Linked DNA regions of Homo sapiens. The protein of the gene in region 2 purifies or fractionates together with the protein of the main gene of each other region. This does not show direct contact. Each region holds a gene or a part of one and is shown on either strand. Other genes may lie near its edges.

Evidence for each region.
Region 1: the proteins of ZNF544 (region 2) and MAP3K20 purify together in Homo sapiens (affinity purification with mass spectrometry; 2 studies listed by BioGRID and IntAct, with this or other methods). This does not show direct contact.

What each region holds. Positions count from the first base shown.
Region 1 is NC_000002.12:173,082,249-173,086,068, reverse strand, and holds part of MAP3K20 (mitogen-activated protein kinase kinase kinase 20), read right to left. Parts: intron 1-3,820. UniProt on the Homo sapiens protein: Stress-activated component of a protein kinase signal transduction cascade that promotes programmed cell death in response to various stress, such as ribosomal stress, osmotic shock and ionizing radiation.
Region 2 is NC_000019.10:58,245,655-58,249,474, reverse strand, and holds part of ZNF544 (zinc finger protein 544), read right to left. Parts: intron 3,689-3,820; exon of another isoform or gene 3,606-3,688; intron 3,175-3,605; coding exon 3,048-3,174; intron 2,765-3,047; coding exon 2,681-2,764; coding exon of another isoform or gene 2,643-2,680; exon of another isoform or gene 2,434-2,642; intron 2,194-2,433; coding exon of another isoform or gene 2,048-2,193; exon of another isoform or gene 1-2,047. UniProt on the Homo sapiens protein: May be involved in transcriptional regulation.

The DNA.
Region 1 (3,820 bases), on a different chromosome or scaffold from region 2:
GTCCCAGCACTTTGGGAAGCCGAGATGGGTGGATCACTTGAGGTCAGGAGTTCGAGACCAGCCTGGTCAACATGGCAAAACCCCATCTCTACTAAAAATGCAAAAATTAGCCAGGCATGGTGGCGTGCATCTGTAATCACAGCTACCTGGGAGGTTGAGGCAGGAGAATTGCTCGAACCGTAGAGGCAGAGGTTACTGTGAGCCAAGATCGCACCACTGCACTCCAGCCTGGACAACAGAGCAAGGCTCTATCTCAAAAAAAAAAAAAAAAAAAAAAAAAAAAATTGCTTTTACACAAAAAAGGCAATTTTGCTCCACGCAACAATGCTCAGTTTTAGTTTTGTAGGATTCTAACTGTTGTTTTATAAACTCTCAAAGCTGTTTTAAATGTTAAGTATCTACCATACAATACTGAAGGGTAAGTTAGAGCAGAAATGTCACAAAAATCAAAGTAAAATAAGGCATCACAACTCTGTAAATGTTGAAAATCAATAATTTGGTGGTTGAATCCAATCATTTCACTACTTGAGTAGAATGTCAAAAAATTTTTAATTTAAAGTTTTCCTTAAATTAAAATTCAAAAACATTTAACTATTAACCAAATTGCTGAAAGCATATATAGCAGCATCACCTAATTATGAAAAGTGGAAACATAAGAAGGTAGGAAATCTTAAAGAATTATTTTACTTTTTAAAGTTTTCAATCTTCTAGTCCAAAAAAATAGACTTAAGTTTCTCTATTCACAGACCTTCTATTTTGCTTCTTGATTTTTCAGATCCATGTTGACCTCAAATAAGTCATTTACCTTTTCACTGTTACTTTTGCCCCAAATTAAAAACAAAAATGACCCCACTACAGTTCTAATGTTAAAAAGCAAGGTTTTAGAATTAGATTGATAGGAGTTTGAACTCTCCCTCCACCTCTCGGTAACTTTAACAAATCACTTTTTCTCAGACTGTGGCATTTCCAGATGCATAAATAAAAAATTTCAAATCTTTTCCATTCAATGTCACAAAACTGATAGCCCCAAAGTTATCAAGTTTGCATAGTATTTGACTTCATTGATACATCTCACTTCCAAATAAGAGATATTTCAACAGGGAAGTAGCATGATTCAGGGTAAAGACCCCTACTAGAGAGATCTATGAGCAGATCTGTTATTAGCTACTTGGGCAAGGCACTGTGTCTCTCTGACCTCACTGTTCTCACTGGCAATAATACCAGTGCTGTGAAAGTGCATACGTGAGCACAGTGCCTAGTATATGGTATACATGCAATTAATGGAAATTATGGTTTTCTCATTATTTTAATAACCCTTGATATCATATTTAGCCATCTATTCCTTCAGTTTTTATGGTCAGGTATGCTCTCAATAGCTTTCCTCTCCCCATTTTCAGAATTGTTTTATATTATATCTCTTAGTTTTGTAGAGCAATTATTAACAAATAAAGGTGCTATTGATCCCTGAATCCTTTCCCTCTCTTTGCCTATTTTCTAATTCTTTCTCATTCCTCTGTTTAACTGCCGTTTTTGGTTTTTGTCATTTCTGAAAGATCTTATTAGTAAGTAATTATAATTTCTTTTAAGCTTTTTTCATAATGTATTTAAATTGCTAAAACACAATACTTTTCTTTTTTTTTTTTTGCACTTTTTGGACATTAGCATTGCTAAGATCTATTTATTCAATGATAGCACTCACTTTGGTAGGGTGCTGGAGCATCCCCTCCTTCCCCAGTGACCACGGTCTTCTTTCAGACATTATCTGCTGCACAGTCAATTGCACGTCTAACCCAAGAAAACTTAACCTGATTATCCAATACCTGCAAGTGATGATTTTTTAAAAAAAATTAAATCTACTTTGGCCGGGCACAGTGGCTCACACCTGCAATCCCAGCATTTTGGGAAGCAGAGGTTGGAGGATCACTTGAGCTCAGCTGGGGCAACATAGGGAGATCTCATTTCTAAAAGTAAAAATAAAAACCTACTTTATGAAAGGATTAACTTTACTAGAAAAAAGGTCTTTGAACTTTCTCTGGATGTTTCTATCTTGTGGTTTTATATGGGCCTATATTTCTGAATTTAGAGCCTTCCTCTTTTCCTGTCCCTAATTCATACTTTCCTTTCCCCCTTCTTCAAAAAGTAAGGTTGCCAGTTTACTTTTTATACAATATAGGAAGAAAAACTTACACGTTTTATCATGACCTGGATGTGACAAAAAAGATACTTTTTGAAAAGAGCTTTCAATATTCAGCAAATTATTTTGCCAAACTTGCTGCCTTGATATTTATGCTAGTATTATTTCAGCCTCTTTAACATAGATCAGTGAATAAATTAATAATATGTGCTTTGTCATCATGTGTATAAAAAGAACACCACTTGGAATCACTGTTCTGCAATTTTTTTCCCCTGAGTCTTATCTTCAAAAAAATGAGGAAAGCTCTGGTTCAGTGTATTTGTCCGTAACACCAAGGTCAAAGATTCAAAGATTCTATTCCTCAACAGGACTGCTGTTCTACTATTTTTTTTTAATCACTAAAAAAGATAAAAGCTGGCTGGGTACAGTGGCTCACACCTGTAATCCCAGCACTCTGCAAGGCTGAGGCAGGAGGATCGCTTGAGCCCAGGAGGTCGAGGCTGCAGTGAGCTATGATTACGCCACTGCACTCCAGCCTGGGTGACAGTGAGACTCTGTCTCAAAAAAAAAAAATAAAAAATAAAAAAATAAAAGTTGCAAGACTAGGTATAGGAACAGAACCAACTTGTACTGTATCTACCAGATATTTCCTTTCTTCCTCCAAGGCTGCTCCTAGAAAAATAGTGTATCTTATACAGAGTAGGTTGGGTTCAGTAAATAGGACTTCAGGCATAGATATCTGAGAGAACCCAACTTTAAATAAGAATCCAAAAAACAGAATAGCCATTGTTTCATATTTTCCCCCTTCCTCTATCTTTACCATATAAAAGTAATGTAACTCTCTAGTTAGAGCAATGGTAAGAATAAAAATAAGCTAAACATTCTTATTGAAATATTAAAGTAATTTAGTAGTGAGGCATTCTTATTGAAATAATTAAAGTAATTTAATAAAAGTCAACTTCCACAACACACTTCCTTACCAAAAGTATTGTTACCAGAAGTAAAAGATGGGAGGCACAGGAATGTAGTTGGTGGGAGCACTTAACGCCACAGAAATGCTGCGTGGAAACATGTCTGTGCTCAAACAGAAGCCCAACAAGGAAACATGAAGTGGATACAACCTACGGCCACGGCATAGGCCGCTGCGTGGGCTTGTTGTGTTGAGTAGCTGGGAGCTTCTTGCAGCATGAGGAAGAGAATGGGGCCAGAGTTGAATAAAGTGAGGGTGCACGGAGAGGGGAGATTTCTAGGGCTTGGCCAGAAGAGGAATTCACAGGTGTCAGGACTGGGGATGAGGAGAAAGCCGTAGCCTATGAGTAAACAAGGCTCACTTCAGTTCGCTACCTCCCACCTATCCTGCCCCCACCCTAGGTCTTGCTGCTACTCAGCCCTTGTTTGTACCCCAAATCGTTTTCTGTCAAATAGAAAGTATCAGACCATCCTGGCTGCTGACAGACAGGTACAACTTTGGACTGAGTGCCTGGAATGAATACTCCCTGAGAAGGGTGAATGCAAGAGTTAAAACATGGTAACCTCAATGTAAGATGAAGGGTGAAAGGAATGGGGATGGTAAAACTAGGGAAGACTAAGACCTTATATTATGTTTTGATGATCAAGAGGCAAGGCTATCTGTGGATGAAAGTTACAGAAAGAATTTCTGGTTCTTTGGGAGGCCAAAGTGGGAGT
Region 2 (3,820 bases):
AATTCATTTCCTGTCACCTAGAGACCATCAAGCTTCAGATGATCATGTGACAATGTTTCCAGCCAGTTCCAGGTGGAGACACCACCCCTGGCCATCAAGAAGCTATCCTGTCTCCACTAGACAGGGCGGGGAGAGAGTCCTGTGATTCCCCAGTACGTAGGGACTGTGCCTCAGGTCAGCATAAAGCAGTTACAGAAGAAAGACTATCAATCCCTTTACCTCCCATAAAGATTTATGAGGATCATGTCTTTCGGGGGGAAATGAGGTATGAGAACAGGGTATGGAGGCAAGAAACCTAAGGGTGATTAATGCTGACTTCCTGGAACTGAATCAAAAGGAAAACCCAAACTTTCCATGCCCCAAATAACAAAAGGATCAGAGGCAACCCCCGCCTTCTGTGTCGCAGATGAAAAATGGAAAGTACCTCTTCCTGCAACCAATGAGACTGGTCACTGGCCTAGTTTTCATCTGCATAGAGGTGTAACTTTGTAACTTCACTTCAGCCTCTGTTGGTCACCTTCCCCAACCAATCAGACTAGTTATGGGCCACTACTTCATTTACAGAGGATATAAACCAAGTAACCAATGGGAAACCTCTCGGGATTTAAACCCCAGAAAATTCTGTAACCAGTGCTCTTGAGCTGCTTGCTCCAGACCACTCCCATTGTGTGGAGTGTACTTTCATTTTGATAAATCTATGCTTTTTTTGCTTCATTCTTTCATTGTTTTATGCATTTTGTCCAATTCTTTGTTCAAAATGCCAAGAACCTGCACATCCTCCACCAGTAACACCAGGGGCTGGGGATGAGGGAGGGATGAATGGGTAGAGCACAGAGAATATTTAGGGTAGTGGAACTACTCTGTCTGATACTATAATGGTGGATACATGACATTGTACATTTGTCCAAATGCACAGAATATACAACATCAGGAGTGAAGCCTGGCCAGGTGCAGTGGCTCATACATGTAATCCCAGCACTTTGGGAGGCTGAGGTGGGAGGATCACTTGAGCCCAGGAGTTCAAGACAAGCCTGGGCAACACAGTGACACTCCATCTCTACAAAAAATTTTTACATTAGCCAGGCATGGTGGTGCATGCTGTGGCACCTGAGGCTGGGGTGCAGAGAGGTGGGAGGATCACTTAAGCCCAGAAGGCTTAAGCTATGACTGCATCACTGTCTCAAAAAAAAAAAAAAAAAAAGAAAAAAAAAAGCATGAACCCTATCATAAACTATGGACTTTGGGTGATAATGATGCCTCAAGGGCAAGGGGTAGTGGCTCACGCCTGTAATCCCAGCACTTTGGGAGGCTGAGGGGGGCGCATCATGAGGTCAGGAGATCGAGACCATCCTGGCCAACATGGTGAAACTCTGACTCTACTAAAAATACAAAAATTAGCTGGGCGTGGTGGTGCGTGCCTGTAGTCCCAGTTAGTTGGGAGGTTGAGGCAGGAAAATCACTTGAACCTGGGGGGCGGAGGTTGCAGTGAGCTGAGATCACACCACTGTACGCCAGCCTGGTGACAGAGTGAGACTCTGTCTGGGAAAAAAAAAAAGGATGCCTCAAGATAGGTTTGCCGATTGTAACAGATGTACAATACAAATCCAAGTTGTTAACAGCAGGAGACACTGCATGTGTCTGTAGGACAGCAGACATGGGTGGGAACTCTGCACTTTCTCGTCAACTTACCTATAAACCTAAAACTGCTCTAAAAAATAAAGTCTATTAGCCTGGGCAACATGATGAAACCCTATCTCCATTAAAAATACAAAAATTAATGGCCAGGTGCAGTGGCTCATACCTGTAATCCCGGCACTTTGGGAGGCTGAGGCAGGTGGATCACCTGAGGTCGGGAGTTCGAGACCAGCCTGACCAACATGGAGAAACCCCACCTCTAATAAAAATACAAAATTAGGGCCAGGCGTGATGGCTCACACCTGTAATCTCAGCACTTTGGGAGGCTGAGGCGGGCGGATCATGAGGTCAGGAGATCAAGACCATCCTGGCTAACACGGTGAAACTCTGTCTCCACTAAAAATACAAAAAATTAGCCGGGCATGGTGGACATGCCTGTAATCCCAGCTACTTGGGAGGCTGAGGCAGGAGAATCACTTGAACCTGGGAGGTGGAGGTTGTGGTGAGCCGAGATTGTGCCATTGCACTCCAGTCTGGGCAACAAGAGCGAAACTCCGTCTTAAAAAACAAAAACAAAAACAAAAGAATTAGCCAGGTGTGGCAGTGTGCACCTGTAGTCCAAGCTACTAGGGAGGCTGACGCATGAGAATTGCTTGAGCCAGGGAGATGGGGGCTATAGTGAGCCAAGACAGCGCCACTGCACTTCAGCCTGGGCAACAGAGTAAAACCCTATCTCAAAATAAATAAATAAATACATACATTAATTAAAAAAAAACAAATCAAGTAAAGAGGCCTAAATGGTTGGGATGATGAACATGTTCTAGAACTGATTGTGGTGAGGGTTCCACACTCAGGGAAGACACTGGAAGCCATGAACTGCATACTTCGAATTGGTGAACTCCTTTGAATGGGTGAACTGCTGCAAAGAGCACCCAAGGAGGCTTCCTCCAAACAAGGCTCCCTCCTTGGCCCCTGGGGCCCTGCGGAGAGCTCTCTGTCCAAGCTTGTTAAACGTTGAGCTGCTCACCACAAGGTCTGCTCTTACCTCGGGGGGCCTCCTGCTCTGCCCTGCACAGGTCCTCTTCTTGCTCCAGCTGAGAGATCACATCAGATTTGGAAAGGAAAAGCCCTGGTCAAAGACGGAAAAAGGACTTGCCCCTCTGCTTGGACACCAAGAACCATGTCCTGGGTCCAAGCTTCAGCCCCTAGTGCTGTCCCGAGGAAACTCCCCACTGTTAGGACTACAAGTCACAAACCTGTCCCAGAGATAGAATGAAGGGCAACCCCTGGGAACTGCACCTGAAAGGGACCTGCTTCCAGTATCTTCCAGCACATCCCAGAACACCCTTCAGAACTTGGTACAGCTTTGAGTCCTAGGGGTAGAACCTCCTTCCATGAGCACAGCCACTTACCCAGGGAGACAATATGCTCCCAGGTCTCCAGTGTCACCTCTCGGTACAGTGTCCTCTGGGCCAGGTCCAGCTGTTCCCACTCCTCCTGTGTGAATGCCATAGCCACATCCTCGAAGCACACAGATGCCTGAAACAGGGCACTTGTTACTGCTCAGAGACCCCAGGTCCTCATGCCCTCACGGAGGTACCTGTTAAGGCCTAAATGTTGGTGTCCCCCCGTAAAATTCATACATTGGAACCTAATACCCAGTGAGATAGTGTTAAGAGGTGGGGTCTTTACAAGGCAATTAATGTCCTCATAAAAGAGGCTTGAGGGAGCCTGTGTTCACCTTCTACCATATGAGGACATGTAAGAGGTGCCATCTATGAGACAGCAGGCCCCAACCAGACCAACTCTGTTGACACATTGATCTTGGACTTACCAGCCTCCAGAACTATGAGCAGTCAATTCTGTTGTTTGTAAATTGCTCACTCTAAGGTATCTTATTATAGCAACCCAAACGGACTGGGACAGCTCCATGTATGTGGTCTGTACCATTCCTTTTCTGGGCATCTCACCTCTTGCCAGTCACAGCAGTGGTCCTGATTTCTAGACTGGAAATGACAGGAACTCCACTAGGAGATCCTCACCCACTTCCTCTCTACAAAAATCACAGATTCGAAATGAGGTAAGAAAGACACTCTAAATCGGGGTGGGAAAACTGCAGCCTGTAGGACAAATCAGGGCTGTGGTGTGTTTTCAAAAGGCTAATGCTATAGAATAAACTGTGTTC